7 linked regions of the Homo sapiens genome follow. Changing the gene in region 6 together with the main gene of any one other region gives a genetic interaction. Each region holds a gene or a part of one and is shown on either strand. Other genes may lie near its edges.

Region 1 (4,679 bases), on a different chromosome or scaffold from region 6:
GGAAAAGAGAAGCATAAATAATTATACAAGCTGGGCATGGTAGTACATGCCTGTAGTCCCAGCTACTCAGGAGGCTGAGGCAGGTGGACTGCCTGAGCCTGGGAGTTTGAAGCCAGCCTGGGCAACATAGCAAGCGACCTTGTCTCTAAAAAGATAAAGTCTGGCCAAAATGGCAAAACCCCGTCTCTACTAAAAATACAAAAATGTGCCAGGCATGGTGGCATACACCCATAATCCCAGCTACTCAGAAGGTTGAGGCAGGAGAACCGCTGGAACCCAGGAGGCGAAGGCTGCAGTGAGCCAAGATCGCACCACTGCACTCCAGTCTGGGTGACAGAGCAAAACCTTGTCTCAAAAAATAAAAGTAAAAATAAAAATACAGAGATAAAATAAATAAAATATAAATAGGCTGGGCACAGTGGCTCACGCCTGTAATCCCAACACTTTGGGAGGCTGAGGCAAGTGCATCATTTGAGGGCAGGAGTTCAAGACCAGAATGGACAACATGCTGAAACCCCATCTCTACCAAAAAAATAAAAAATTAGCCAGGCGTGCGGCGCACACCTGTAATCTCAGCAACTTGAGAGGCTGAAGCAGGAGAATTGCTTAAACACGAGTGAGCCAAGATCACACCACTGCACTCCAGCCTGGGCAACAGAGCCAGACTCTGTCTCAAAAATCAATCAATCAATAAATAAAACATAATTATACAATGAGAATTAAAGAAATCAAAATTTTGTTTTCATTACAAAACTAAAACTTACTTAGAAGAAGAAGCTGAAATACAGCCTTTTGCATCCCAAGTGACTGGATTATTTCCTTCTGTTGACACATCATTAAGTAGCTGACAGATTTTCTTTTATTGTAAAACTGGAATGTTGAATTTCCTACCAAGATTTACTTGCTGGCACTTCAGGTATCTTCTAACTTGTTTACATAGTTATATTGAAGTAGAAACACTGAAGGCCTTCCAAAAAAAAAAACAACAACTAACCTGTGAATTTTTAATGATATGATTAGCCTCCAGCTGGATAGTAAATGTAACACCAAGTTCTGACGAAAAGGATTTCATTGGTGATAATGTACCAGATGTCAAAACAATGGTCTGAACTTTGCCATTAATATCTGAAAAGGCCTAAAAGAAAACAACATTAGATAAATAAAATTATCTTTAGAAGAGGCTGGGCAAAGTGGCTCACACCTGTAATCCCAGCACTTTGGGAGGCTGAAGCAGGAAGATCGCTTGAGTCTAGGAGTCTGAGACCAGCCTGGGCAATATGGTGAAACCCCGTCTCTACAAAAAATACAAAAATTAGCCGGGCATGGTGACACATGCCTATAGTCCCAGCTACTCGGGAAGCTAAGGTGGGAGGATCGCTTGAGCCTGGAAGGTCAAGGCTACAGTGAGCTGAGATTGCACCACTGCACTCCAGCCTGGGTGAAGAGCAAGACCCTGCCTCAAAACAACAACAACAACAACAACAAACAACTATCTTTAAAAGAGTCAACCACATTTATTAAAATGCTGGTACTGAGCAAGAAGACAAAATTTCCATTTACATGATGAGCTTACCACAGCTGGATTTAAGCACCAAAAGTTTAGCACATGAACTGCAGTTTTCTGTCGTGAACGTTTCTTATTTTTTGGTAGAACCAACAACCCATTTTTGTCTGAAATATCAATCTGATTTGTCCAGGAGTAAGTCTGTTGAATCGCAATTTTATAATCATCTGCAAATCTAGATGCAAAGAAAGTGCTAATTAAGTGGCAAAACTTTTAAAACCTATGACCCAGCTACATACAATATAAAAACTGATTACATTAAAACTCATTTGAAAGAGCTGGTACCTTCCCATTCAAAAATAACATTCTCCTTACCATTAATTAAATTCAGTAATTCTGATATTAATAAAGCCATTAATCATAGAATCAACTGATTCTCAGAGGGAATATTAGAAATCATCTAACCATCTATCTTTTATCAGCTACTTCCTAACCTCATTTTCAAACATTACATATGTCATGGCAGAAGCAGAATTAAAATCCAGGCCTCCTAACTCCCAGTCCAGAGCTCTCTGCATGCTCTACTACATGATGAGTTACAAAATAGAAAACAGTATTATGGTTAAAGAGACTAAAAGGTGGGTTATACTTTTTTATTAAATGAGAAAATAGAAGGATAATTTTTACTGAAAGTTTTTAAAGTATTAGCAACAAGTTATAAAATTCTTACATTCCTTTGAAACCTGAGTCTCAGCCTTCATCTACTTTTAATGAAGGTGCTGAACCAGATGATATCTGTGATCCCATCCAGTGTATAACTGCTTTCAATAAGAATCTAGAAAATGGTTAAGCTTAAAAATAATAAAATGTGGCCAGGCGCGGTGGTTCACACCTGTAATCCCAGCACTTTGGGAGGCCGAGGCAGGTGGATCACGAGGTCAGGAGTTCGAGACCAGCCTGGCCAACATGGTGAAACCCCGTCTCTACTAAAAATACAAAAATTAGCCAGGTGTGGTGGCAGTCGCCTGTAACCCCAGCTACTCAGGAGGCTGAGGCAGGAGAATCACTTGAACCCGGGAGGTGGAGGTTGCAGTGAGCTGAGATAGCGCCACTGCACTGTAGCCTGGGTGACGGAGCAAGACTCCATCTCAAAAAAAAAAAAAAAAGTAAAATGTGATATTCTCTACCATGTCTTCGCTATAGTATTTCCTTATTCATTTCACTCCTAGAGAGATTAGATCTCAAAATTAAAGTTGGGAACTTAACAACTGTGGAGAGAATCTTATAAAAATACTGGGAGCCAAAAACTGTAAAACTCTTAAAACAAAGGGGAGACCGGGTGCGATGGCTCACGCCTGTAATCCCAGCACTTTGGGAGGCCGAGGTGGGCGGATCACGAGGTCAGGAGATCGAGACCATTCTGGCTAACACGGTGAAACCCCGTCTCTACTAGAAAATACAAAAAATTAGCCGGGCTTAGTGGCGGGCGCCTGTAGTCCCAGCTACTCGGGAGGCTGAGGCAGGAGAATGGCATGAACCCGGGAGGCTGAGCTTGCAGTGAGCCGAGATCGCGCCACTGCACTCCAACCTGGGTGACAGAGCGAGACTCCCGTCTCAGAAAAAAAAAAAAAAAAAGGAAAAGAAAACATAGGGGAAATCTTCATATCAGATTTGGCCATGATTTACTGGATGTGACACTAAAAGTACAGGCAACAACAAGAAAAGAGAAAGATAAATTGGACTTCAACAAGATTAAAAACCTTTTCTGCATCAAAGGACACTATGAATAAATGAAAAAACAACCCACAGAATGAGAGAAAATATTTGTAAAGTATATATCTCTTACAGGACTGACATCCAGAATATCTAAATAACTACAGCTCAACAACAACAACAAAAAAACCCAATAATTCAAAAGTGGGCAAAAGACTTCAATAGATATTTCTCCAAAAAAAGACATACAATTGGCCAATAAGCACATGAAAAGATTCTCAACTTCTCTAGTCATTAGGAAATACAAATAAAAACCAGATGATATCACTTGATACCTATTAGGATGGCTATTATACAAAAAATAAAATAACGAGTGTCAGCAAAAACAATTCTGATATATGCTGCTACATAAACTGTTGGCAAGGATGTGTAGAAATTGGAACCCTTGTGCATTGATAATGAGAATGGAAAATAATGCAGTTGCTGTGAGAAACAGTATGGTGAGTCCTCAAAAAGTTAAATGCAGCATTACCATATGATTCTGCAATTCCACTGCTAGGTACTTATATACACCCAGAAGAACTGAAAGCAGAACTCAGATATTTGTACACCAACGTTCATAGTAGCATTGTTTACAATAGGCAAAAGATGAAAACAACCCAAATGTCCATTAACATAAGAATAAATTAACAAATTGTGGTATATACATACAATGGAGTATTATTCAGCCATAGAAAGGAATGAAATTCTGATATATGCTACTACATAAATGAACTCTGAAAACACTGTGCCAAATGAATTGAAATAAGCCAGACACAAAAAGACAAACATTGTATGATCGCTCTTATGTGAAATACCTAGAAAGGACTTCATAAGATGAAAATAGAATACAGGTTAGCAGGTGATGAGGGGAAAGACTCTAGGGGTTATTATTTCATGGGTACAGAATTCCTATTTGGAATAATAAAAAATTTCTGGAAATCTCTGGAAATGAGTACAATGTACAACATTGCAAATATACTGTACTTAATGGCACTGAGTTGTATACGTAAAATGGTTAAAATGGTGTATTTTATGTATATTTTACCACAATAAAAAAAAAATACCAGAACTAGGTACTACTATAATTTAAGTTACAGGATGAGAGGGATTGGTTGTTTTTCATTTTCCACAGTTCATACAATAAAAAAGGGACTTTCTGACACTGTAGGAACATAAGAAAACTTTAGCAATAGAAGATAATTTAATATGAATTAATTAAATATATTTATTTAATGATTTCAATATTCATTAATATAAAAGACTAATTTTGGCCAGGCATGGGCTCACACTTACAATCCTAGCACTTTGGGAGGCTGAGGTGGGAGGATCACTTGAGGCCAGGAGTTCAAGACCATCCTGATCAACATAGTGAGATCTCATCTCTACAAAAAAAATAAAAATTAAAAAATTAGCTGGGTGT
Region 2 (4,679 bases), on a different chromosome or scaffold from region 6:
GAATACCAAAGACTGTGGTGATCAAAGCAGCAAAAGGAGAATCCCCTCAACCCCATCCGTCTGCTCCATTTATCCTCTATGTCCTTCCCAATTCAGACAAAATCCATTTTTATCATTAAACTTTAGTAGGTCTGGAAAACACCCAATAAGCACCTTCACAATATAATTAAAACTTTTAAATACTTTACCTAAAAATATATATTAAGTACCTGCTCACTGACTAATGAAATGCAGTTAAAACTGTGTTTTTCCTTCCTTTCCAACTTCTAATTTCATTCAGTTTGAGAATATAAAATATCTAGTAGCAATATACTTTTTTTTTTTTTTTCAGACGGAGTCTCGCTCTGTCACCCAGGCTGGAGTGCAGTGGCACGATCTCGGCTCACTGCAAGCTCCGCCTCCCGAGTTCAAGTGATTCTCCTGCCTCAGCCTCCCGAGTAGCTGGGACTACAGGTGCATGCCACCACGCCTAGCTAATTTTTTGTATTTTTAGTAGAGACAGGGTTTCACTGTGTTAGCCAGACTGGTCTTGGTCTCCTGACCTTGTGATTCGCCTGCCTTGGCCTCCCAAAGTGTTGGGATTACAGGGCGTGAGCCACCACGCCCGGCCACAATATACTTGTCTATCAAAGACGTTATAGATTTCACACGATCAACTATGAAAATACTGAATCCACAACAAAGCAGAGATAGGATTATGAAAGAGTGCTTCTATTCAGGGACATTTTTAGTTAACAGCTAAGGTAGAAAATTTAACTGCAAAAAAAAAGCATATAAACATTTTTGGGAATTATAATGTTCTCATTTTGTATCCTCAGGAAAATTTGTAACCTCAGTGAAAACTATCTGTCTTAGAAAGAACTCAATTTATTTCTACTTTGGGCAATTTAAGCTCTAAAAACATGGATTCTAAGACATAACACTAACCTAGCTGAGCTTTGATAAGTCTTTCAACTTTCTCCACTTTCTGCTCTTCCTTTCAACAAGTCTGCATGTCCTTTAAAAACGTAACAGAATATCAGAAAATATCAAAATCAGGTTTTTTGTTTTTTAAAATGGATACACTGCCAGGCTCAGTGGCTCACTTTTGTATCCGAGCACTTTGGAAGGCTGAGGCACAGTGGCTCACTTTTGTATCCCAGCACTTTGGAAGGCTGAGGCGGGAGGATACCTTGAAGCCAGGCATTCAAGACAAGCATGGGCAACAAAGCAAGACCCCTGTCTACACACACACACACACACACACACACACACACACACACACACGATACAGTTTATAAAGTTAAATTTGAAATACATGCATGAATAACTTATTGATATATTTGTCTTCCAATCTCCATATACTTTTATTTTCCTTCCTTGAATAAGAAGGGCAATCAGTTTATTCAGTTCCGTTTAGCAATTTACAAACTCAGTGCTTATATACCTAAGGCTTTCTCTTAAAAGAATTGATCTATATGGTGGACACTAACTAGAGAACACATGAGTGTATTCATTCAATTTAACTAACAAATGTAAACTCCCTCAAATGGTGTAATTTAAGAAAGAGCTTTACCCACCAAGAAAAAAAAAATAGAATAAATTCACAATGCGATTGAAAATGTACTATGGTAAACATAACTCTACAATTAAGTTTCTGACTATTCTAAAGGTAGGTACATATAAATAGAAATGAATATTTCAGTGCCAGAAAACTAGTAACATATAGTTTTGTACAATAAATTTTTAATGTCCAAGATATTTCACCCCCTTTCCAAAAAAATCAAGTTTTATAAAGGAAACATCAAGTTAACCTTGACTATAGCTGTAATATTGGCATCAGTAAGCAAAAACAAAATTTTAAAATATTTGAAATATTTACCTAAATCTTCATACCAAAACTTCAAATTCTTAACCCAGATAAGACCAGCAAACTGTCCCCCAATTTCAACAACAAAACAGAACAAAAAATTAAAATCCACCAAGTAAATATGGAACACATTAGGCAAAGAGATACTTGGGCATAAATTTAACCATAAGTAATTTCCAAATATTATTGAACACGTCATGAACACAACATTTTGGTCCAATTAATGAAATGTTCCCTAAGCCATTTAATTTTTTTTTTTTTTGCACTTTAATATCTCCATCTACAAAATGTGGGAAACTATACCTTATCCTTTCATACTATAGGAATATCCTAATAATAAACATTGGTGGAACACATTGAGATGTACATGCCAAGAAAAGGAACTACATGAAAATAAAGTGCATAAACATCACAGATGATTAGTATCCAATTTTTAATTTATTTATTTTATTTTATTTTATTTTTTTGAGAAAGAGTCTCACTCTGTCGGCCAGACTAGAGTGCAGTAGCACGATCTCCGCTCACTGCAACCTCCGACTCCCGGGCTCAAGCAGTTCTCCTGCATCAGCCTCCCAAGTAGCTGGGATTACAGGCATGAGCCACCATGCCAGGCTAATTTTTCTATTTTTGGTAGACACGGGGTTTCACCATGTTGGCCAGGCTGGTCTCAAACTCCTGACCTCAGGTAATCCGTCTGCCTCGGCCTCCCAAAGTGCTGAGATTACAGGCGTGAGCCACCGCACCTGGCCTCCAATTTTTAAATAGACTGCTTTTACACATTATCTGTAAGCACTTTACTTTTTTTTAATTTTTAATTTTTGTGGGTACACAGTACGTGTATATATTTCTGGAGTAGGTGAGAAACTTTGATACAGGCAGGCACTTATATTTGTAAAAATTAAATGCCAATGTTAAAATAATCAATTGCATTTTCAATTTTAGACTCTAAGAAATTTTTGTAGACAAGCTATAACTGAATAAATGTATATTTGAGAAAATTAAGTTAATGTCTGGCAGACCATTAATACTCAAGTCTATATTTAATGACTGTCAATATTTGTATCAAAAATAACAAAACACTATTAAAATATACATGGCCAGCATACTAGCTTGCTCTTCCTAATTTAAATTATCTGTAATATTATGAAGATATATCATAAAACACTAGGCTAACAGCCATCCATCCAATTAATAGCAAACTTACAGGGGAATGTGAGCAAATATTAAACTTGTAAAGGAGGAATAACACATATAATGACAGTCTTACAATAGGTCAAATGAAAAAGCAGTTCATATTAAAAAATTATTCCACTTGTAATTTAAAAAACACACTGCATTATCTGCTCATCAGTAATGATGATATTCAATCTGACGTAGCAAAGAGGTAACTTATCAAGTCACTCGATTACTATTTCTTACTATGAAGAGCCAATCTTATGGGTAGGTAATAGAATTGCTGTTACTTGGCATCTTGTCTGCCAATTAAGATTTTTCAGAGGAAGGTGTAAAAGCTAGCATCATATATATCCTCTTACTGTGCAATATTAGACCACCAGGAAAAAATTCTTTCAAGGTTGGTAGTACCTAAGTTTTGACCAGCATATTTCTTTTGTATTTCTTTACAAGCCATGCAAATCTTCACATGGTTTTATTTTCCAAAACAAATGCTTCAACTTTTTTCCTAGTAGCCTAGCTACAACCCTGCAAAAACAAACCTAGAGAGTGACATATGGAGGAAAAACAAGTTTAACTAAGGACATAGTTCAAAAAGCAGCTTCTAATAAGAGCAAAAAGCCCAATTTGATCTGAAGACCATGTAAATACTTACAATGTTGAAACTATATAGTTAAAAACAGTACCTATAATTAATGATATCCTCCCAAGATAAAAATGACAACTGGAAAAACAATATTTATAATTAACTTTTGTTAAAAAAAATTGGAAGCCTAGATATTAATTTGATTATGCTAAAACTATTAGTATGAATGTAAACTCTTCAGAAAAATATACATCTCATGAATCATGTATATTCTATAGTACTTTCTGGTTATAAAACTTAAGTCAATCAATCTAACAAATATGAAGCAAAACTTCAAAAATATGTATTTCAAACAGTCCAAAATTCAAATGCTTTAAACTGATAAAAACATAAAACCAGAATATGTATTAACATGTTCCTCTCAATATCATAAATAGAAATGAGCAAATGAATGTCACGATGAATATAAAACTCTCTTGTTTCTCACCCCACTACTAACTCAACGGTTTTGGAGGTTAATTTTGCTTTTTGATTTAGCCCTTTAATTTAAAATGTACTCTGACACAAATGCCATCACACACACACAATAGATGACAACCATATTTAATATTTTCTAGACTTCCTGTGTAACTCAATAACTACTCCACAAAGTTCTGCGAACTCCAGCTTCAAGCCTGAAGTCAATCTAAGATAGCCAATAGAAAGTACACCTGTGCGATTACTGCATTTCCTATTTCAGAATGCTGAACGTAATACACAATAACTGAGTGCATCTGAAGCAATAATAAATGCAAAACTCAAATTATGCAGAAGCCACCTTACAAAAAAAGGCCTGTACTATCACTATTAAAAAGCAATAAATACAAAGAATATCATTTTAGTTTTTAATAACACCAACTAACTTAGGATCCTCTAAGATAAGCACTTTAAAAATAAAACACAGCATCATGATAAATTACAGTATGAAAGTATTCCTAGAAGAAAAACTAGAGGCAAAAAAAAAAACGCTAAATCACAAAATATATCATCTAGACTGTATCACATACCAACTGAATAAGAAATTAAACTTTG
Region 3 (4,679 bases), on a different chromosome or scaffold from region 6:
ATCTTCAGCTGTTCATATAGCCACTTCTAGAGACTAATACAACCTGATTCTCAGAATTAAATCATGGCATATGTGTTACTACATTTGACCTGGTAATTTAATGACGGAACTATCTAGCTGAAAATAGCCAGAATAATTTACTAATGTTTCAGCTTTTAAGAGACATGGTCTCACTCTACTGCCCAGACTGGAGTGCAGTGGCCTCATCATAGCTCACTGCAGCCTCAAATTCCTCAGGTCAAGCAATCCTCCTGCCTCAGCCTCCCGAGTAGCTATACTACAGGCACATTCCATCCATGCCCAAGTAATTTTTTTATTTTTTGTAGAGACAGTCTCGCTGTATTGCTCAGGCTAGTTTTGAACGACTGGCCTTAAGTGGTTCTGTGGCCTTGGCCTCCCAAAGCGCTGGGATTATAACCATAAGCTACCAAGCCTGGCCTCAGCTTTTTTTTAAAAAAAAAAAAAAACTAGAATGCACTACTGTACAGTAGGTGCACTGACAATGAAATGAACAATAAGCTTTTCTATTTGCCCTGAGGCCATAATGCAGATGTTTTAATTTACGTTAAGACCAAAGACTCTGAATCTCAAGTAATTTGATCAGTTTACACATTTTAAAGACACTGTTACACAGTGATATCAATAATGCTGGGCCGAGTGTGGTGGCTCACGCCTCGTAATCCCAGCACTTTGGGAGGCAGATCACCTGAGGTCAGGAGTTCAAGACCAGCCTGGCCAACCTGGTGAAACCCCATCTCTCCTAAAAGTACAAAAATTAGCTGGATGCAGTGGCATGCACCCATAATCCCAGCTACTCCGGAGGCTGAGGCAGGAGAATCACTTGAACCTAGGAAGTGGAGGTTGCATTGAGCGGAGATCACACCACTGCACTCTAGCCTAGGCGACAGAGCAAGACTCTGTCTCAAAAAAAAAAGGGCTGTATTACATCAAGAAAAGGGTTTGTGGAAACTCTGGGAGCCTAAACTTTTAAAACTTAGCAGCAGATTTAAACTACTACCATTTCTCCATCATAAGTGAGACACTCCTGGAAAACACGGTCTAAGAAGACATTGGTCATGGTAGCTGTTCCATAGCGTGAGAGTTCTTCTTTACTGAGCATGCCATTGTGATCTTTATCAAGATTCAAGTACTGGCCTTGGGAAGAAAAATAATAAAGACACTTATGACCACAATAAAATTTTAATCAGAAGAATAGACTAACAAAAAGTTTTTTCTTGGTTAATATTTTGATTTTCAAACTATTCATGTTATGATTAGGGTAGTGGCCTATGTGTAATACTATCAGCTACCTTTGCAATCTTGATCAGAAAAACCCTTGGGCTAGAAACAGCCAAAAAAACCCATCATGAAGGCCATAGTCTCTGGGCTGTTTCACTTACATCATTATTTGTTTTCAGTTTGCAGTCTTTTTAAACATTCCTAGGTTTCTAAATTAAATGGAGGTAGAGGCCAACAAAAAGCACTGAAATGCTAGCACTTGAAAGTAGAGATAAGAATGCCAAAAGGAGGTCGGGCGTGGTGGCTCACGCCGGTAATCCCAGCACTTTGGGAGGCTGAGGAGGGCAGATCAGAGGTCAGGAGTTCCAGACCAGCCTGGCCAACATAGTGAAACACCGTCTCTACTAAAAAAAAAAACAAAAAAAAAAAACATTAGCCGGGTGTGGTGGCGAGCGCCTGTAATCCCAGGTACTTGGGAGGCTGAGGCAAGGAGAATCACTTGAACCTGGGAGGTGGAGGTTGCAGTGAGCCGAGATCATGCCACTGGACTCCAGCCCAGGTAACAGTGCAAGACTCTATCTCCAAAAAAAAAAAAAAAAAAAAAAGCCAAAGGAGTCAAAAGACCACCCAACAAGATAATGTAGATTAGCTCCATCAGTAGACCCTGGGAATAGCATTTTATCAACAAAGCATGACAATAGCTAATGTTCATAATGATGCTCCTGAGTCAACAAGGATCAAATTACATTCTGTTCTATTGAAAAGGAAGTGTATAACTTAAAAAGGGTTCTGCTGGGTGCAGTGCCTCATGCCTATAATCCCAACACTTTGGGAGGTCAGGGCAGGTGGACTGCTTGAGCCCAGGAGTTTGAAACCAGCCTGGGCAACACAGTGAGATCCCATCTCTAAAAAAACATAAAATAAATTAGCCAGGCATGGCGCCTGTAGACCCAGTACTGGGGGTGGTGGGGTGGGTGGGGTAGGGGCACTGAGGTGAGAGGATTGAGCCTAGGACTTCAAGGCTGCACTGAGCCGTGATCATGTCACTGCACTCCAGCCAGTGTGACAGAGTGAGACCCTGTCTTCAAAAAGAAAAGGTTGGGGGGAGTCCAAAAAGTTAAAACATCGGTATTTAAACAAGTAAATTTTGGTAATGTAGAATACTAAAGCTTAAGGTAATTAAATATTTTGATCTTAAGGTATATCAGTGTATGTATAAAACTGTCCTCTGAACACCAATTTCCTGAAGAATGGATAATTCAAATTTTAGCATTATGATAGGAACATACCATAAACTCTTAGGGCAGAAGGAGCAGAAAACCAATTTGTTTCTTGACTCTCCTTGGACAGTTCCTCATCCCTTAGCTAATGGAACACAAAGACATAATTAGAAGATAGCAACTGTCAAGTGATACAATTAAGTAGTTTAAAAACATTTACCTCCAATAAATCATCTAGGAAGCTGCATGCTAAAATATCTTGAATTTTTATCTTTCCTTTAAGAACATAAAGAAACACAATTAATTTCATTTTAAGAAAAGAGCAACTCAATTAATTAAAAAAAAATTTTTTTAACAAGAGCAATCACACAATTGATATTTTAAAGCTTCTAGCTCTTATGCTCCAAAGTCCTTATTACATATTGCTACAAAAAGGGAAATCTCGGCTGGGCGCGGTGGCTCACCGCGTAATTCCAGCACTTTGGGAAGCTGAGGCAGGTGGATCACCTGAGGTCAGGAGTTCCAGACCAGCCTGGCCAACATGGTGAAACCCCATCTCTACTAAAAACACAAAAAATTAGCTGGGTGTGGTGGAGGGCGCCTGTAATCCCAGCTACTCTGGAGGCTGAGGCAGGAGAATCGCTTGAACCTGGGAGGCAGAGGTTGCAGTGAGCTGAGATCAAGCCATTGTACTACAGCCTAGGGAACAAGAGCAAAACTCCATCCCCACCCTGCAAAAAAAAAAGAGAAACCTACAGGCAACATTTAATAACATCTCTACTTGTATACCTCAACTATATAAATCTAAGTGGTAAATTCTAAAATTATACTGATGTCAGATTTTCAAAAAAGTTGTGATTATAGATATAGTACTGCTGGTACACGAACAGGGACACTGTCTCCATTTATTTTTGGCAGGTTCTGGACTAGAAAGCAATACGCAGGTAAACAGGTGTGGTTTAAGAGCAGAGTTTGTTTTGTCTTGTTCTTGTTCTTTTTTTTTTTTTTTTTGAGACAGAGTTTCGCTCTTGTTGCCCAGGCTGGAGTGCAATGGTGTGATTTCAGCTCACTGCAATCTCTGCCTCCTGGGTTCAAGCGATTCTCCTGCCTCAGCCTCCTAAGTAGCTGGGAATACAGGCACCCACCACCACATCCAGCTAATTTTTTCTATTTTTAGTAGAGATGGGGTTTCACTATGTTGGCCAGGCTGGTCTTGAACACCTGACCTCAGATGATTCACCCATCTTAGCCTCCCAACGTGCTGGGATTACAGGTGTGAGCCACTGCGCCTGGCTGCTGCTGCTTTTTTGTACAGAAGAGGTCTGTCTTGCCAGGGCTGGTCTTGAACTCCTAGGCACCAGTGATTTCTCACCTCAGCCTCCCAAAGTGCTGGGATTACAGGTGTGAGCCACCACACCTAGCCCAGATTGGAGTTTGAATGCCACTTTTAAATATGTAACCTAGCAAAGTCTCAGTTGCCTTACACATAAAATGTGGACAATAATGTACCTTCCTTATGGGGTTATGAGATGAAAATGAATGAATCCATGTAAAATGCTTAGCATACTACATAAGTCAAAACGTGATATTATTTTGTAAAATTTGAAAAAGTATATATGTGTGTACTTATAGTAGAGGAGTTCAAAAAACACTGTCAGCTACCATATGCTGTGATTGGATTCATAACTGGATTTTTTTTTTTTTTTTTTGGACACAAGGTCTGGCTCTGTTGCCCAGACTGAAGTGCAGTGGCCCGATCTTGGCTCACTGCAGCCTCTGCCTCCTGGGTTCAAGTGATCCACTTCAGCAGCTTCCCAAGTAGCTGGGACTACAGCCGTGTGTCACTACGCCTGGCTAGTTTTTTTTTTTTTTTTTTTTTTTGAGACGGAATTTCCCTCTTGTTGCCCAGGCTGGAATGCAATAACGCGATCTCGGCTCACCTCTGCCTCCCGGGTTCAAGCAATTCTCCTGCCTCAGCCTCTCGAGTAGCTGGGATTACAGGTGTGAGCCACCGTGTCCAGCCAATTTTTGTATTTTTTTTGTAGAGAAAAAGTTTTGCCATGTTGCCCAGGCTGATCTTGAACTCCTGAGTTCAAGTGGTCCACCCAACTCAGCCCCCCAGAGTGCTGAGATTACAGGCGTGAACCACTGTGCCAGGCCCATAGCTGAATTTTCAAGGACAGAAGGACAATCAGGCACTTTGATTTGGACCTTCTCTGT
Region 4 (4,679 bases), on a different chromosome or scaffold from region 6:
CCTCTTGACTTCACCTTTGTGTGCCCCACGGAGATCATTGCTTTCAGTGATAGGGCAGAAGAATTTAAGAAACTCAACTGCCAAGTGATTGGTGCTTCTGTGGATTCTCACTTCTGTCATCTAGCATGGTAAATCTCTTGGTCTATTTGGCATGTGAACTTTTTTTTTTTTTTTTTTTTTTTTGAGATGGAGTCTTGCTTTGTCGCCCAGGCTGGAGTGCAGTGGTGTGATCTCCGCTCACTTCAAGCTCTGCCTCCCAGTTTCACGCCATTCTCCTGCCTCAGCCTCCTGAGTAGCTGGGACTACAGGCGCCTGCCACCATACCTGGCTAATTTTTTGTATTTTCAGTAGAGACGGTGTTTCACCGTGTTAGTCAGGATGTTCTTGATCTCCTGACCTCGTGATCTGCCCACCTCAGCCTCCCAAAGTGCTGGGATTACAGGTGTGAGCCACTGCACCTGGCTGGCATGTGAACTTTTAAAACAGCAACTGGGAAGCTTTGGCAATAGACTTTCAAGTATTGCCTTCTCATTGAAGGGAGTGCAAAGTCTGACTTTCTCTTATTGCTCTCATGACCTGGCAGCAGAGAAGAAGCAGCTTCAATTGCAGTTGAGTGTACCCTAGTGACCTACCTTAACTGTTCTCAGCATTCACTTTATTGCTGGAAAACGGAAAAAAAACAGTCTTTTTGGAAAGTTAGATTAGGAATATGGGAAAGGGGAAAGAGGAATGCGTACAGTCAAGTCAAGAGTTTGAATGTAACTGTATGTTTGCCTTTTGCCATAGGGTCAATACACCTAAGAAACAAGGAGGACTGGGACCCATGAACATTCCTTTGGTATCAGACCCGAAGCGCACCATTGCTCAGGATTATGGGGTCTTAAAGGCTGATGAAGGCATCTCGTTCAGGTATGTCATCAGGACAAGTATCCAGTTGGCTGAAAGCCTTTTATTTGGAGAGATCTAGAGCCCTGATCTGTAGAGACTCCTTGTCATTTCATTCCTTTATGCAGGGGCCTCCTCACTAAGGCCAGGCCAGTAGGAGTGTGGAGACCAGTCCATTTCCTTCAGGCTTCAAGCCTCTGTATTCTAACAAAGCACATCTCTAAACCTGTATTGCTTTTCCTTTCATCTCTTTTCCCAGGGGCCTTTTTATCATTGATGATAAGGGTATTCTTCGGCAGATCACTGTAAATGACCTCCCTGTTGGCCGCTCTGTGGATGAGACTTTGAGACTAGTTCAGGCCTTCCAGTTCACTGACAAACATGGGGAAGGTAAGCCATCTGTCTGATAACAGGACAACAGAGTGGTGGTATGAAGGGGTGGGTTGCCCCTTCACACCTGTGGGTGTTTCTCGTTAGGTGGAATGAGAGACTTGGAAAAAGACACGTAGACAAAGTATAGAGAAAGAAATAAGGGGGCCCAGGGGACCAGTGTTCAGCATACAGAGGATCCCGCCGGCCTCTGAGTTCCCTTAGTATTTATTGATCATTCTTGGGTGTTTCTCGGAGAGGGGGATGTGGCAGGGTCATAGGATAATAGTGGAGAGAAGGTCAGCAGATAAACACGTGAACAAAGGTCTCTGCATCATGAACAAGGTAAAGAATTAAGTGCTGTGCTTTAGATGTGCATACACATAAACATCTCAATGCCTTAAAGAGCAGTATTGCTGCCCGCATGTCCCACCTCCACCCCTGAGGCGGTTTTCCCCTGTCTCAGTAGATGGAACATACAATTGGGTTTTACACTGAGACATTCCATTGCCCAGGGACTGGCTGGAGACAGATGCCTTCCTCTTGTCTCAACTGCAAAGAGGCGTTCCTTCCTCTTTTACTAATCCTCCTTAGCACAGGGTGTCAGGCTGGGGGACCCCGGTCAGGTCTTTCCCTTCCCACGAGGCCATATTTCAGACTATCACATGGGGAGAAACCTTGGACAATACCTGGGTTTCCTAGGCAGAGGTCCCTGTGGCCTTCCGCAGTGTTTGTGTCCCCGGATACTTGAGATTAGGGAGTGGTGATGACTCTTAAAACGAGCATGCTGCCTTCAAGCATTTGTTTTAACAAAGCATATCTTGCACAGCCCTTAATCCATTTAACCCTGAGTTGACACAGCACATGTTTCAGGGAGCACAGGGTTGGGGATAAGGTTACAGATTAACAGCATCTCAAGGCAGAAGAATTTTTCTTAGTACAGAACAAAATGGAGTCTCCTCTGTCTACTTCTTTCTACACAGAGACAGTAACAATCTGATCTCTCTTTTCCCCACAGTGGTAGAATGGGAAAGATAGTAGGAACAGAAGCTACCAAATAAGAAAATGGGTATCTCTCTTCATAAATTGAAGCCCCTGGATTACAGTGTGTTGTGAGGGTGAGGGTAATGGAAAAGCTTGGGAAGGAGAATATAAAGGCTTTTTATTCAAAGTATACATACTCCTCTCTTCTGTCCTGCTCATTTAGAATCAGTCACTCCCAAAGATCTAACTTACTGAATGTAGGATGATCTCACAGATGTATTAGGGCAAAACAAAATGGTTGGGAATCACCTCTAGAGATAAAGCATGCCATTTTTTAAATAACTTTATTGAGAGAAGAGGTTAATCCATATAGTTCATATTTTTATTTATTTATTTATTTTTTGCAAGATGGAGTCTTGCTCTGTTGCCCAGGCTGGAGTGCAGTGGCGCAGTCTTGGCTCACTGCAACCTCCGCCTCCCCTGAGCCATTGCGCCCAGCCCAGACTAGCTTTCTAAGGCCTATTTCAGCTCTGATCTTGTAATTTAAAGGAAATGAAGTTATTAGAGTCTGGATTAGTGGTGTATGTTTGGGAAGACCCAAAGGTGCTAGCTTGGCTAGCACCAAGTAATCTTTTTACAGGGATTAGAGTCTGATTATATAGGGATCAGTGAGCACTGATAACCAAGAGGTACCCTTTGCAGAAGGATGTGTGGGCAGTTAGCCTGGACAGATGACACATGGCTCAGCTGACACCTGCTGAGACTGCCCCCTTGTGGGAGATGAGGTTCAGCATTAAGAAGGAGGCAGCAGTGGCAAAGTAGGCCCTTTAACTGGACTTTCCTAGGAACCTACATATAGGTTAGTCTCCTGAACCCAGGCTTTCATAACTCAGAAGCTTGCTTCTTCAGACTCTGTTGGTCTCTGCTGCTTCCCATCCCACTGGAACATGTACAGCCTCTTAAATAGGTACCATTTAAGAGCCAATGAATGCCAAACACTTTTTTTTTTTGAGACAGAGTCTTGTTTTGTCGCCCAGACTGGAGTGCAGTGGTGTGATCTCAGCTCACTGCAGCCTCCACCTCCTGGGTTCAAGTGATTCTCTTGCCTCAGCCTCCTGAGTAGCTAGGACTACAGGGGTCCACCACCACGCCCCACTATTTTTGTATAGTCCCAGCTACTCGGGAGGCTGAGGCAGGAGAATGGCATGAACCCCGGAGGTGGAGCTTGCAGTGAGCTGAGATCGCGCCACTGCACTCCAGCCTGGGCGACAATGTGAGACTGTCTCAAAAATTAGCCAGGTGTGGTGGTGGGCGCCTGTAATCCTAGCTATTTGGGAGGCTGATGCAGGAGAATCGCTTGAACCCGGGAGACCGAGGTTGCAGTGAGACGGAGGTGGAGATTGCGCCACCGTACTCCAGCCTGGGCAACAGAGGGAGACTCCATCTCAAAAAAAAAAAAAAAAAAAAAAAAAAAGAAAAATAAGAGATTAGTCCCCTTGCCTCATTTTCTTCAGGCTAGCCTGAGGCACATTCTTAGGCATTGTCAGGAAAAGGTTGAAGGCTGTGCTTTCTGTATAAATCTATGAAAAATTTCAAACTCTGCCTTTTGCTTACCAAGGGGTAGATGGCAGTTACTTAATGAAACAAGCGGGGGCTTCTGTTAAGTTCTTGATCCTTTATAAGGTTCAGGCTATCCAGTTTGGTAGAGTTAGAAGAATGCTGAGAAGGCAGACTGAGTTTGCTGTCTTCAGAGCTCTGAAGGGCTGTCAGAAACAGTTTAGTGTTAAGGGTTTACATAGTCCTATGTGTGTCGTTTATTTAGCTTTTTTTTCCCCTTAAGGATTAGAGAGTGTTGGCAAATTATTTAAACTTTGCCTTTTTTTGTGGAAAATTTAAATTTCAAGTGCTACATGAATAAATTAGGCATGATAGTATCTTAAGGCTGTGGTGATGATTATATGTTTGTAAAATGGTTAGCTCATACTAAAAGGGTGAATGATCTAAGACTGATTGCAGGGGTAGGTTTCCTGGTATCTGAGTGTTCAGGTGCAGAACTGGTTTTGTCCATAGGAGAATGGTGGTGCATACCATTGAGAAGGTTATTAATTAGTGGTGCCTTTCTCTTGCAGTGTGCCCAGCTGGCTGGAAACCTGGCAGTGATACCATCAAGCCTGATGTCCAAAAGAGCAAAGAATATTTCTCCAAGCAGAAGTGAGCGCTGGGCTGTTTTAGTGCCAGGCTGCGGTGGGCAGCCATGAGAACAAAACCTCTTCTGTATTTTTTTTTTCCATTAGTAAAACACAAGACTTCAGATTCAGCCGAATTGTGGTGTCTTACAAGGCAGGCCTTTCCTACAGGGGGTGGAGAGACCAGCCTTTCTTCCTTTGGTAGGAATGGCCTGAGTTGGCGTTGTGGGCAGGCTACTGGTTTGTATGATGTAT
Region 5 (3,371 bases), on a different chromosome or scaffold from region 6:
TAGATCCCTTGTGGTCTGAGACCCTTTGAGGGGGTCCATGAGGTCAAAACTATTTTCAAGACAATATTCACACCTTTTTCCACTGGGTTGACATTTGTAATGATGGTACCAAGGCAGCGGTGGAGAAAGCTGCTGGTGCCTCAACACAAATCAAGGCAGTGACAGTAAACCATATTAGCAGTCTCTCTGTTCTGCATCCTTCTTCGCTTGTAGTTTAAAAATGCCAGTTTCACTTACTGTCACTTCACCATATGCAGTAGAAAGTATTAATTTTATTAGCTCTCCATCCTTGAGATGTCTTTTTAATGTTCTGTGTGATAAAATGAGAAGTATGCCATAAAGCACTTCCACTGTACACCAAAATACGATTAAAAGGATTTGTGCAACTATATGAGTTGCAAGCTAAAACTAGAGAACATTTTCCTGGAATACTGTTTTTACTTGAATTAACAACTGCAAGAAATCCCATGGTCACTCAGACCTGGGTGCTTGTCACACTTTTTCTTAAAGGAATGAAAGAAGTCTATCACCTCAAGGAAAACTGACAGCCTTTGTTGCCAATGGCAGAATATAAAACGTTAAAATTTTGTCAAAAATTAAAAAATGAATATTTTTTTTTTGAGACAGAGTCTCACTCTTTCACCTAGGCTGCAGTGCAGTGGCACAATCTCCGTTCACTGCAACCTCTGCCTCCTGGGTTCAAGCGATTCTCCTGCCTCAGTCTCCCAAGCAGCTGGGATTACAGGTGCGCCCACCACACCCGGATAATTTTTGTATTTTTAGTACAGACGGGGTTTCACCATGTTGGCCAGGCTGGTCTTGAACTCGTGACCTCAGGTGATCCGCCCGCCTTGCCTCCCAAAGTGCTGGGATTACAGGCGTGAGCCACTGCATCTGGCCAAAAAAAGGAATTTTGGAAAACTTATCTGCAGTCATTAGCTTGACAGGTGCTTAGACTTTTCTGATGAGATCAGTTGTGGTATTAATGTGCTTTTGATATTGTATAATAAAGCATCTCAACATGTGGGTATCTACATATCTCAGTGAACCAGTATTTCTGAATGGTCAATGCAAGATAGATGCAAGAATATAAGATACATTCCAAGTGCAAAATAGACCAATGGATTTTACTGTCAAGATACAAAATGCTCATTGATACGGTTTCAGATTCCACATTGCAATTTTATATTCAGAAACAGCCACTTGTGGGTTTTAGTGTAGTGGCAAAAAAACCTATCCACACTTATCTGAAAAGACTATTAAAAACGTATCTGTGTGAAGCCAGGTTTTCTTCGTATATTTTAACAGATGTAAGAGTGAATATAGAATTTGATAAGAATCCAGTTGTCTTGTATTAAGCCAAATAAAGCAAATTTTCAAAAATATAAACCATGCCATTCTTCTCCAAACTTTTCCAGAACAAAAAATATTTTATGTTAAAAAAAAATTTACATTAATGTAATGTGATTACTTAGTGAATAAATATCTTAAGTTTCTCAGTCTTAATTTCTAATACAGAAAAGAGCAGATCACACAAGCAAAAGTGGTCTTCAATAATTTCTAAGAGTGTAAAAGGGTCTTTAAAACAAAACAAAAAAAAATGGAGAACCATTGTGTTAGGTAACATTCATTCTTAAAATCCAAGTACCTTACTTCTTAGCAATTATTTTTAAAAAGTGATTTTTCTGTACAGTAACAAAAGTAGGATTTAACACTGAATTTTCTTCAAGGAGCTGTTTTCTCAAAAGATTAGAAAATCATGGTTTTCCTTATCTTTGTCCGTAGGTGTGAAAGTTCTCTAAAGCCTAAGTACTCAAGAATTAGTCTGCTCTTTTACAAGCCTGGTAAAACCCAGAAGTCAAAAAGGAATTGAATGATATGTGACTATTTAACTTAAAACCACTGAATTGTAAAGGAAACCATAGACAGAAGACTCCAGAGGAAAGAAGTTTGCAATATAAGGGGAGCTAATTTTATCTACAAAGAGCTCTTTAATCAAAGAAAAACACAAACCGGAAGTTAATAAAAAAAGAAAAACTGTAAGTGGCCAATAATCAAATATGTTCACCATACACACAACAAATTTAAAACAATGAAATATTTCTTTTCTGATAAAGATTAGAGTTTTAAAACATTGATAGTGAACCTGGAGGAAGCAGACATCTTCATCCACTGTAGACGGATTTAACAATTTACACTATTTTGAAGGGCCACTTAGCAATATCTCTTTCCTGTAACACAGGATATTGTGGTCTTCATTCTTCATCAATATGCATAAATCTACCTCATTTTCCTCAATGGCTGAATGGTAATTATTAGCACGGATGCACCACATTTTATAATTTTAAAACTTAATCACACAAGCCCTTGAACTCAGCAATCCTTCTCAAAGTTTCCCTCCAGATGTACTCACAAACTTACAACAAGATCATTTCAAGAATACTAATCATAGAAATGTTTGTAGTTTCTAAAAGCCAGAACAATCTGAATGCAAATTAGTAAAATAACTACATGACCTCTTTGGCTAAATAAAAGGGTAAAAGATCCAGCTCAGAAATCCGTAAGGCCCTCCCTGATCTGATCCCACACCTCACCTGTATCCTCCTTTACCCTGCCTGTATTTTTCCTAGAACCACTTTAGTCTCTTTTCCTACCTCACGATCTTTGCACCACTTTGACCTACAATGCTGTTTTTTCTGGCTCACTCACAGTGAGATGACTTGTCCAGCATCTGACTTTCCCTTCAAATTATGGGCTCCCATAGGCAGGGCCCATCTTGTTAAACAGTGTGTCCAGGACCTAAGGATGCCTGACACACAGTAGCTTCTCCTGAAATGGTTGAGTAAATTAAAGCTTGAAAAGCTGTTTCCAAAACAGAAAATACTTCAGATACATGTAGCAGGTTGAAGAAATTTGAAAAACATGTCTTCACTGTCTTATGTAGATTTTTCAAACCAAAGAAATAATCCTACCAAATTACTCTCAGGCATTGCTCAACTTGACATAAAGCTCACTTCTAAAAGCCTTGTGAGAAAGACTGTCCACAATGGGACTTATTCAATGTTCATGAATACATCTTACCTCCTCTAGGTGATAAGCTTTTACAGACAGGAACAATGTCTTCTACATCTTTGTTCCTATTCCCCTCCTGACCTAAGATGATACCTTGCAAATAATTCCATCAACAAGTACACTTGTCCAAAGCAACCCAGATTCAGACAGTCTCATCATAGTTTTTGGTCATATATTATATTCATAACAAGTTACAGCTGAGCTGAATACTAAGAAACTAAAGGCCAAAAGCACTTTTCGCAATTGCAAAAGATACTACCTAGAGGATTGAAGGGAAAGAATTTTTCTATTTCTGGATA
Region 6 (3,500 bases):
ATCACGCCATTGCACTCCAGCCTGGGCGACAAAGGCAAAAACTCCGTCTCAAAAAAAAAAAAAAAAGGATGCAGTCATCCCAGCCACAGGAACCAGTCTGTGAAAACCAGGCATCTCTTTCTTTCTTTCTCCTGCTACTGGGGCTTGAGATGCTCCTGAGGCCCATCCTCCTCTCCACCTTCTCCATCTGTGGGGAGGCACCTCAGTATTCCTGCCTCAAGGAGGGGGAAGTGCTCCTGGCTGAGCAAGGTCCTGCAGTTCCCAGCCTGCTCCCTGGAGCCCCAGGTGCTTCTGCCACAGCTCAAACACCAGCCAGCTCCCTTGAGGCCGCGTGGCTTGGCACTTCCCAGACTTCAGAAGTAGACACGGCAGCTAAAGAAGGAAACAAAGCCCGACAGCGTTTTTATAAACCACCATATGCTCCCACCTGCAGCCATTGTTAAAGAACAAATTTACAGGTCAGGAGGAAAGTAACTCCTGGTGGAAATCCAGGGATGGGCTTCAAGACTGAGAAGAGACCGGGCATGGTGGCTCACGCCTATAATCCCAGAACTTTGGGAAGCCGGGGTGGGAGGATCACCTGAGGTCAGGAGTTCGAGACCAGTCTGGCTAACATGGCGAAACCCCATCTCTACTAAAAATACAAAAATTAGCCAGGCATGGTGGCACACGCCTGTAGTCCCAGCTACTCGGGAGGCTGAGGCAGGAGAATCTCTTGTACCTGGGAGGCGGAGGTTGCAGTGAGCTGAGATCGTGACACTGCACTCCAGCCTGGGCGACAGAGCGAGACTCCATCTCAAAAAAAAAACAGAAACAGAAACAGAAAAAAAAAAAAAACGGAGGAGGCAGAGCCAGACCTCACTTTACAAACGCCTGAAGCTTCCGCTCCTGGCTGGGTCACACTAGGAAGACACAGGGCCACAACATCCATACTTACGCTCTAGGTCTGGAGTCCCACCCTGTAGACCCTAAGTGGCTGGGTGGCACCCAGGGCTGGTTTCCTTGGGGCAAGGTGACCCAAGCAGTTGCCGAGCAGCCCAACCCCATTAGGTCAGCCTGATAGTAGGAAGAAGGCAGGATCTCTGTGCTCTGTGAGCTGCTAAGTTTCTCAAAACCAGATGGAATTGCCAGAGACCACCTCTGCTCTCCAAAAATCTTGAGGCCCCCATAGCCTCTATCTTTTATCTGATTAAGACAAATCACCTGCTTTGCATAACAGCCAAACTGGAAGGATCTCAAGGGCCCTGGCTGGCCACAGCAGCATCAGCCATGGAGAAAAGAAAGGGCAAGAAGGGGCTGGGTGCAGTGGCTCATGCCTGTAATCCCAGGTGTGAGTTTGAGACCAGCCTAGCTAACATGGCAAAACCCCGTCCCTATTAAAAATACAGAACATTGGCCAAGTGTGGTGGTGCATGCCTGTAGTCCCAGCTACTTGGGAGGCTGAGGCAGGAGAATTGCTTGAACTCAGGAGGTGGAGGTTGCAGTGAGCCGAGATTGTGCCACCACACTCCCACCTGGGTGACAGAGAGAGACTCCATCTCGGAAAAAAAAAAAAAAAAAAAAAAAGAAAGGGCAAGAAGGTGGCCCCAGACCAAGGAGTGAGCCGTGGGGGTGGTTCTGTGGCCCTCTGTTGCCTGGCATGGAGGTGGGTCCTGTGACAGCCTAGGTGAGCGCCACCTGTGAGTGGACACCTGCATCAGGCCTGTGCTGGGAGGGGCACAAAGGGCCCTGGCTGGCCCCCAGGGAACAGAAAATTCAGGGCCCGAAGAGGGACAAGGGCAACAGCAAAGTGAGGCCTGGGTACAACAGTGGGTTGGGAAGTGGGCTGTGGCCACTGGCACGTGGCTGGGAGGGAAGGTGAAGCAGATGGGCCGTGCAGACTGGGCCGGTGGAGCTCAGAGTCTGGGCCAGTGAGAAGCAGCACCTGTGGAGCCACAGGGCTTACAGATCCCTGGTCATAGCCGGGTTACGGGTGCTGACTGCAGTACGACCAGGGAGTACCCCAGCCCCACACAGGAAGGAGCGTCTATGGGCGTCGGGCAATGGGGAAGACATGAGTGGCTCCTGCCTGCCTCTCGGACCCTGGTCTAGGGTGGCCGGAGGGGGACAGCGAGTGCCCTGTACCATCAGCTCCCGCACGGCACTACCCAGCCCCTCGGCTGGCAGTCAGCCTGCATCACAGCTTCTGCCTAAAGTCTCTCCCCAGCCACAGCTGCCCTGCCTATTCCCCACCAGCTGCCAGCCAGAGCGCCGCCTCGGGGTGCCTGGCGGGGACCCAGCACTTGCTCGTCACGAGCTCTGGGCGGGCTCCCTGACGATGAGAAGCCGGCAGGCGTGCTGGCCTGGGATCCGCCGGGCTGGGCTGCTTCGCTGCATGCCAGGTCCTCACCGGTGGGGGAATGAATGTTCCGGAACCCTGGGCGGGGTGGGGATGATGGCACTGGCTTCTCAGGGCTTCAGTGTCTCACTCCCTACAATGACTTCCCAGGCTGGGCGGTGGAGGTCAGCTCTGGAGTGCAAGACACACACACACCGGTGCCTTGGACGAAGGGAGTCAGGAATCCCACATTAGACAAAGGAAGACAAATACTTCTTAAAACAAAGACTCAGGTCAGAGAACTAGAACGCCATGAGAGAAATCTCTACAGGGTCGTAGTTCAAGGCAATTGCACATAAGAGGGGCTGGGCTCTTCACTCAGCTGGGGAAAGTTCTGGAGCTCCCACGGAAACCCCCAGCCAGCTCCCTATGGATGGCTCTCTTGATATCTGGTCCATCCCGCGGTCCCGGTAGCAGGAGAAGTGGCAGGTCCTGGGGTGGCTGGGTCACCTGCTAGAGCTCTTCAAAGAAGGCCACTCGGGACTTGGCGCTCTGCAAGGTGAGCTGTAAGAAAGCAGAGAAGAAGCTGAGAGGGCACAAGACCTCCGCTCTGTCACACAGGGTCCTGTCCTGCCACTTGGACTCACCTCAAAGGTGGCTGGGAGCGAAAGGGAAGGCTGTTCAAATAGATGCTCAAGAAGTTGGCTGTCAGTCCCAAATAAGCGGCCAGATTTGCCCAATAATTCAAATTAGGAGGTGACAAATGAGGATGTGCAAGGGGAAGGCTGGTGGGCAGAGGCACGCCAGCAGGAAAAAGCCGTCAGCATTGCCTCTTGACAGAGGACCGGAGATCCCTGCCTATTTTAATAGATTCTCACATTCCCATCTACCAAGGTCCCTGAGCCACCTCTGTGGTGTGCTGTCTGTGGCGGCACCAGCTGAGGCTGCTCATCCCCTCCGGGCTTGGCAGGGCAAGCATCTTAGTCCTCATGCCCTGGCAACATGGCTGGGGTAAGGTGACGTGGCCTGAGGCAAGGCAGGCCTGTGGCAGATGAGGAAGAGTTTACCCCTTCTACTCCTGGTTTCCCAGGTGGTCCCGAAGCAAACTTGCTCATGACGTGGCAGCTGAGAAGGTGTTTCTCTCCATGAGCTGGAGGCAACGGCTTTCTCAGTGTGGCTTGTG
Region 7 (4,679 bases), on a different chromosome or scaffold from region 6:
CCAGCTACTCAGGAGGCTAAGGCAGGAGGACTGCTTGAGCCAGGAGGTCAAGGCTACAGTGAGCTGTGATCACGCCACTGCACTCCAGCCTGGGTGACAGAGTGAGACCCTGTCTCAAAAACTAAATAAATAATTTTAAAAGATTTAACAATTTTATTGTTAAATTTTAAAATGCCTTAAAATTTAATTAATATGAACAAATTATAAAATTCAAAAGGCCGGGCGCAGTGGCTCACGTCTGTAATCCCAGCACTTTGGGAGGCCGAGGCGAGTGGATCACCTGAGGTCAGAAGTTCGAGACCAGCCCGGCCAACATGGTGAAACCCCGTCTCTACTAAAGATACAAAAAATTAGCCGGGCGTGGTGGTGTGTGCCTGTTATCCCAGCTACATGGGAGGCTGAGGCAGGAGAATCCCTTGAACCCGGGAGATGGAGGATGCAGTGAGCTGAGATAGCGCCATTGCACTCCAGCCTGGGCAACAAGAGCGAAACTACAGCTCAAAAAAAATAAATAAACAAAATAAAATAAAATAAATTCAAAAAATAATCAGTTTTTGAAAGGGCAGAAGACAAAACCCTGGGGATAACCTACATTTAAGGGATCAACAGAAAAAGAGGAACCTACAAAGGGGACTACAAAAGAGCAGCCAGAGAAGCAGAAGGAAATGTCACCAAAGCCCAAGGATGGGCTGGACGATATAAGAAGCCACAAAGGGGTCAGGTCAGCCCTGAAAAGTATCCATTCAACTGTGCAGTAAAGGGGCCAATGGCGAGCTTGGCAAGAGCAGATTCAATGGCGTGGAGGAGCAGAAGCCGGAACACAGCCGACCGGGAAATGTTTAATTAACAGGAAGTTAGCATAAAGAGGCAATGAGAGCAGGTGATTTTCTAGGTTCTTTTCAGAAAGTGAGCTATGAAGTAAGGAAGAAAGTGTGAGGTGTTATAAGGAAAGAGGATTTTTTACTTATCTTTTTTTTTTTTTTTGACTCAGAGCCTCACTCTGTCACCCAGGCTGGAATGCAGTGGTGCGATCTCAGCTCACTGCAGCCTCCACCTCCCGGGTTCAAGCCATTCTCCTGCCTCAACCTCCTGAGTAGTTGGGACTACAGGCACATGCCACTACACCCGGCTAATTTTTGTGTTTTTGAGACAGAGTCTCGCTCTGTTGTCCAGGCTGGAGTCTATCTCAGCTCACTGCAACCTCTGCCTCCCAGGCTCAAGCGATTCTCGTGCCTCAGCCTCCCGAGTAGCTGGGATTACAGGCACGCACCACCACGCCCGGCTACTTTTTGTAGTTTTAGTAGAGACGGGGTTTCACCATATTGCCCAGGCTGGTCTCGAACTCCTGGCCTCAAGTGATCCACCCGCCTCGGCCTCCCAAACTACTGGGATTACAGGCGTAAGCCACCCTGCCCGGCCTATTTTTCATTTTAAGATGGAAGAACCTTGAATATGTTTATAACTTGAGGGAAAAGTGAAGTTGAGAAAAGGCTCAGGAAATGAGGGAGAAAGCCAAGTGATAAGGCAGTTCCTTGAAGAAATAGAAGGAATAGAATCAAGTGAACAGGTTAAAGGGACTGGCCATCAACAGAAGTTAATGAGCAAGAAAGAGGGTAGTGGCAGGGGAGTTTGTATATATAAGGACACCTAAGCAAACCAAAGTCAATCAGGCTGTAGTGCAGTGGTGTCACCACAGCTCACTGCAGCCTCGACTTCCTGGGCTGAAGCAATCCTCCCACCTCAGTCTTCTGAGTAGCTGGAACTACTAGTGCATGCCACCATGCCCAGCTAATTTTTTGGGTTTTGTAGAGATGGGGACTCACTATGTTTCCCAGGCTGGTCTCAAAGTCTTGGCCTCAAGCGATCCTCCTGCCTCGATCTCCCAAAGTGCAAGGATTACAGGTGTGAGCCACTGTGCCCAGCCAAGAATTTTTAACTGGGTTTATTTAATCTAGAGAAAAGTAGTTGCTAGGCGTAAGCTTAACAACAAGCTTGTATCTATATTTTAAAAGTTAGGGCCTGGCATGGTGGCTCACACCTGTAATCCCAGCACTTTGGGAGGCCGAGGCAGGCAGATCACCTGAGGTCAGGAGTTTGAGACCAGACTGGCCAACATGGTGAAACCCCGTCTCTACTAAAAATACAAAAATTAGCCAGATGTGATGGCGGGTGCCTGTAATCCCAGCTGTTCAGGAGGCTGAGGCAGGAGAATCGCCTGAACCCAGAGGCAGAAGATGCAATGAGCCAAGATCGGACCACTCTACTCCAGGCCGGGCAACAAGAGTGAGACTCTGTCTCAAAAAAAAAAAAAAAGGCCAGGCACGGCGGCTCACACCTGTAATCAGAACTTTAGGAGGCTGAGGCAGGAAGATCCTTTGAGCCCAGGAGTTCACGAAAAACCTGGGCAACACAGGGAGACCCCATCTCTATAAAAAAATAGTTTTTTAAACAATATATTAGAACCCTTTTTCAGACCCTTTCCCAACCATTCAGCCCAAATATCATTAGGTGGGAGCAAGTAAGGTAACCTAGAGTAGGGTGCTGGCATCCAAGCACGGTGAGGAGGACATCCTTGCAGAGAGGCTGCAAGAGTGATGGCAGAGCATGTCACAGCTTGAGCACAATGAAGAGGGTGAGCCTGCAGAGGGGGACCTGGTGTGGGGTACCAGAGCCCAGGTAAGGTGAGGGGAGCATCCATGATGCATGAGGGGTGGCAGCCATAGGAAATTGGTCACATACAGCGGAACTGATTAAATAAGTCAATATATTAAGGAGAATGGAGCCAGTTGGAGAAGGGAATTACAAATATGGAAAGGAAGGAAATGAGAATGAACCCCGTGGTGGCTGAACTGGAATTGGAGCTATCAGTGCGATCCCATGGTTTTCATACATACATCTGTACAAAGATTTAGAAATAACATATATGTACGTATATGCACATATATTTCCCAGCTCCTCCACTAAGAGGGTATGGGAGCAGTGATACCCAGGAATAATGACCACTCCCAACGCACATATCTCCATTTCAAAATATCATCCTCCACTTCAAAATATCATTCTCCATTTCAAAAAAGGGCTCCTTGGAGATGTGGGTGATTCTAGGACTGGGGCAGGGAAAAGCATAAGATGAGCCTAGAATATTTTATTGTGCCAGAAAGTGAGAAAGTGCTCAAAGAATAATGGGGACACATCAAAGAAAACCACACAGAAGCTAGCCTGAAGGGACTGGGACACTCCTGGGATCATGTGAACATCAAATAGATGATAGTAACATATTATAGTCCATTCAGTAACATAGGAATTCCTGAGTCCATACTGATTTAAAAATAATGAATTGAAAGTCTGATGAAGGTCTCAAAGTTACCTGCCACCCCCCCCCACATAAGGTACTTATTAATTACAAAGGGGAAAAGAGTAACTTTACAGTGAAGAACAGTGGCAGACATCATCGTCATCCAGTAAGCAAAGCTGATATCATCAGTAATGAGACAAATCAAAACCATGCACCACTTGATAGGATACAATAAGAACAGAGCATCCCTTCTGTGACATTCCTGCCAGAGATGCATAACCCAAAGCTAATCATGAGGAAGCACCACACAGACCCAAATTGAGGGACAATACACAAAAGAACCATGTCAAAGTCACGAAAGTCAAAGAAAGATTAAGGAACTAGTCCTGACATGACAATTAAATCAACATATGATTCAGAACTGGATCCTTCTGCTATGAAGGACCACTGGCAAAAGTTGAATGGGACCTGAGGATTAGACAGTATGACACATCAGTGTTAATTTCCTGATTTTTTATGGTTGTTTTGTAGTTATGTAGAAGAATGTCCTTGTTTGTAGGAAAGACATATTCAAATATTTGGGGGTGATGTGGCATCATGTCAGCCACTTATTCTCACATAATTCAGGGACAAAAAATTTTTTTCTTTTTTATTTTTGAGACGGAGTCTCACTCTGTCGCCCAGGCTGGAGTGCAGTGGCGCGATCTCGGCTCAATGCAACCTCCACCTCCCAGGTTCAAGTGATTCTCCTGCCTCAGCCTCCTGAATAGCTGGGACTACAGGCGTATGCCACCACGCCTGGCTAATTTTTTGTATTTTTAGTAGAGATGGGGTTTCACCATGTTAGCCAGGATGGTCTCGATCTCCTGACCTTGTGATCTGCCTGCCTCAGCCTCCCAAAGTGCTGGGATTATAGGCGTGAGCCACCGCGCCTGGCCACAGAAAAATTCTTTATACTGTATTTGCAACTTTTCTGTAAGTTTAAGACTTTCTTTTTTTAAAGTTACTAGTAAGAAAGATTATTCAGACTATACCTCCATTAAATAGGAATCTACATTTATAAGAAAAAAATTATGACAATTCAGAAGTAGTAGATGCCATTTTTTTTTTTTTTTTTTGGAGATGGAGTTTCACTCTTGTTACCCAGGCTGTAGTGCAATGGCACGATCTCAGCTCACCGCAACCTCTGCCTCCCAGGTTCAAGTGATTCTCTTGCCTCAGCCTCCCAAGTAGCTGGGATTACGGCGCCCACCAACACAACTGGCTAATTTTGTATTTTTAGTAGAGACGGGGTTTCTCCATGTTGGTCAGGCTGGTCTCAAACTCCCAACCTCAAGTGATCCGCCCGCCTCAGCCTCCCAAAGTGCTGGGATTACAGGCATGAGCC

Evidence for each region.
Region 1: changes in NF2 (region 6) and BRIP1 together harm fitness more than expected from each alone (negative genetic interaction), as found in Homo sapiens cells (one large-scale study listed by BioGRID).
Region 2: changes in NF2 (region 6) and ARID2 together harm fitness more than expected from each alone (negative genetic interaction), as found in Homo sapiens cells (one large-scale study listed by BioGRID).
Region 3: changes in NF2 (region 6) and PPP2R3C together harm fitness more than expected from each alone (negative genetic interaction), as found in Homo sapiens cells (one large-scale study listed by BioGRID).
Region 4: changes in NF2 (region 6) and PRDX1 together harm fitness more than expected from each alone (negative genetic interaction), as found in Homo sapiens cells (one large-scale study listed by BioGRID).
Region 5: changes in NF2 (region 6) and PTTG1 together harm fitness more than expected from each alone (negative genetic interaction), as found in Homo sapiens cells (one large-scale study listed by BioGRID).
Region 7: changes in NF2 (region 6) and ACOT9 together harm fitness more than expected from each alone (negative genetic interaction), as found in Homo sapiens cells (one large-scale study listed by BioGRID).

What each region holds. Positions count from the first base shown.
Region 1 is NC_000017.11:61,779,267-61,783,945, forward strand, and holds part of BRIP1 (Fanconi anemia group J protein), read right to left. Parts: intron 1,740-4,679; coding exon 1,574-1,739; intron 1,136-1,573; coding exon 995-1,135; intron 1-994. UniProt on the Homo sapiens protein: DNA-dependent ATPase and 5'-3' DNA helicase required for the maintenance of chromosomal stability. Acts late in the Fanconi anemia pathway, after FANCD2 ubiquitination.
Region 2 is NC_000012.12:45,732,006-45,736,684, reverse strand, and holds part of ARID2 (AT-rich interactive domain-containing protein 2), read right to left. Parts: intron 1-4,679. UniProt on the Homo sapiens protein: Involved in transcriptional activation and repression of select genes by chromatin remodeling (alteration of DNA-nucleosome topology). Required for the stability of the SWI/SNF chromatin remodeling complex SWI/SNF-B (PBAF).
Region 3 is NC_000014.9:35,094,030-35,098,708, forward strand, and holds part of PPP2R3C (serine/threonine-protein phosphatase 2A regulatory subunit B'' subunit gamma), read right to left. Parts: intron 2,736-4,679; coding exon 2,680-2,735; intron 2,605-2,679; coding exon 2,529-2,604; intron 1,156-2,528; coding exon 1,019-1,155; intron 1-1,018. UniProt on the Homo sapiens protein: May regulate MCM3AP phosphorylation through phosphatase recruitment. May act as a negative regulator of ABCB1 expression and function through the dephosphorylation of ABCB1 by TFPI2/PPP2R3C complex.
Region 4 is NC_000001.11:45,511,103-45,515,781, reverse strand, and holds part of PRDX1 (peroxiredoxin-1), read left to right. Parts: coding exon 1-128; intron 129-786; coding exon 787-909; intron 910-1,144; coding exon 1,145-1,275; intron 1,276-2,399; exon of another isoform or gene 2,400-4,367; coding exon 4,368-4,453; 3' UTR 4,454-4,679. UniProt on the Homo sapiens protein: Thiol-specific peroxidase that catalyzes the reduction of hydrogen peroxide and organic hydroperoxides to water and alcohols, respectively.
Region 5 is NC_000005.10:160,424,291-160,427,661, reverse strand, and holds part of PTTG1 (securin), read right to left. Parts: coding exon 3,332-3,371; intron 1-3,331. UniProt on the Homo sapiens protein: Regulatory protein, which plays a central role in chromosome stability, in the p53/TP53 pathway, and DNA repair. Probably acts by blocking the action of key proteins.
Region 6 is NC_000022.11:29,694,133-29,697,632, reverse strand, and holds part of NF2 (merlin), read right to left. Parts: intron 2,882-3,500; coding exon 2,831-2,881; coding exon of another isoform or gene 2,824-2,830; 3' UTR 1-2,823. UniProt on the Homo sapiens protein: Probable regulator of the Hippo/SWH (Sav/Wts/Hpo) signaling pathway, a signaling pathway that plays a pivotal role in tumor suppression by restricting proliferation and promoting apoptosis.
Region 7 is NC_000023.11:23,725,701-23,730,379, forward strand, and holds part of ACOT9 (acyl-coenzyme A thioesterase 9, mitochondrial isoform a precursor), read right to left. Parts: intron 1-4,679. UniProt on the Homo sapiens protein: Mitochondrial acyl-CoA thioesterase. Catalyzes the hydrolysis of acyl-CoAs into free fatty acids and coenzyme A (CoA), regulating their respective intracellular levels. Regulates both mitochondrial lipid and amino acid metabolism.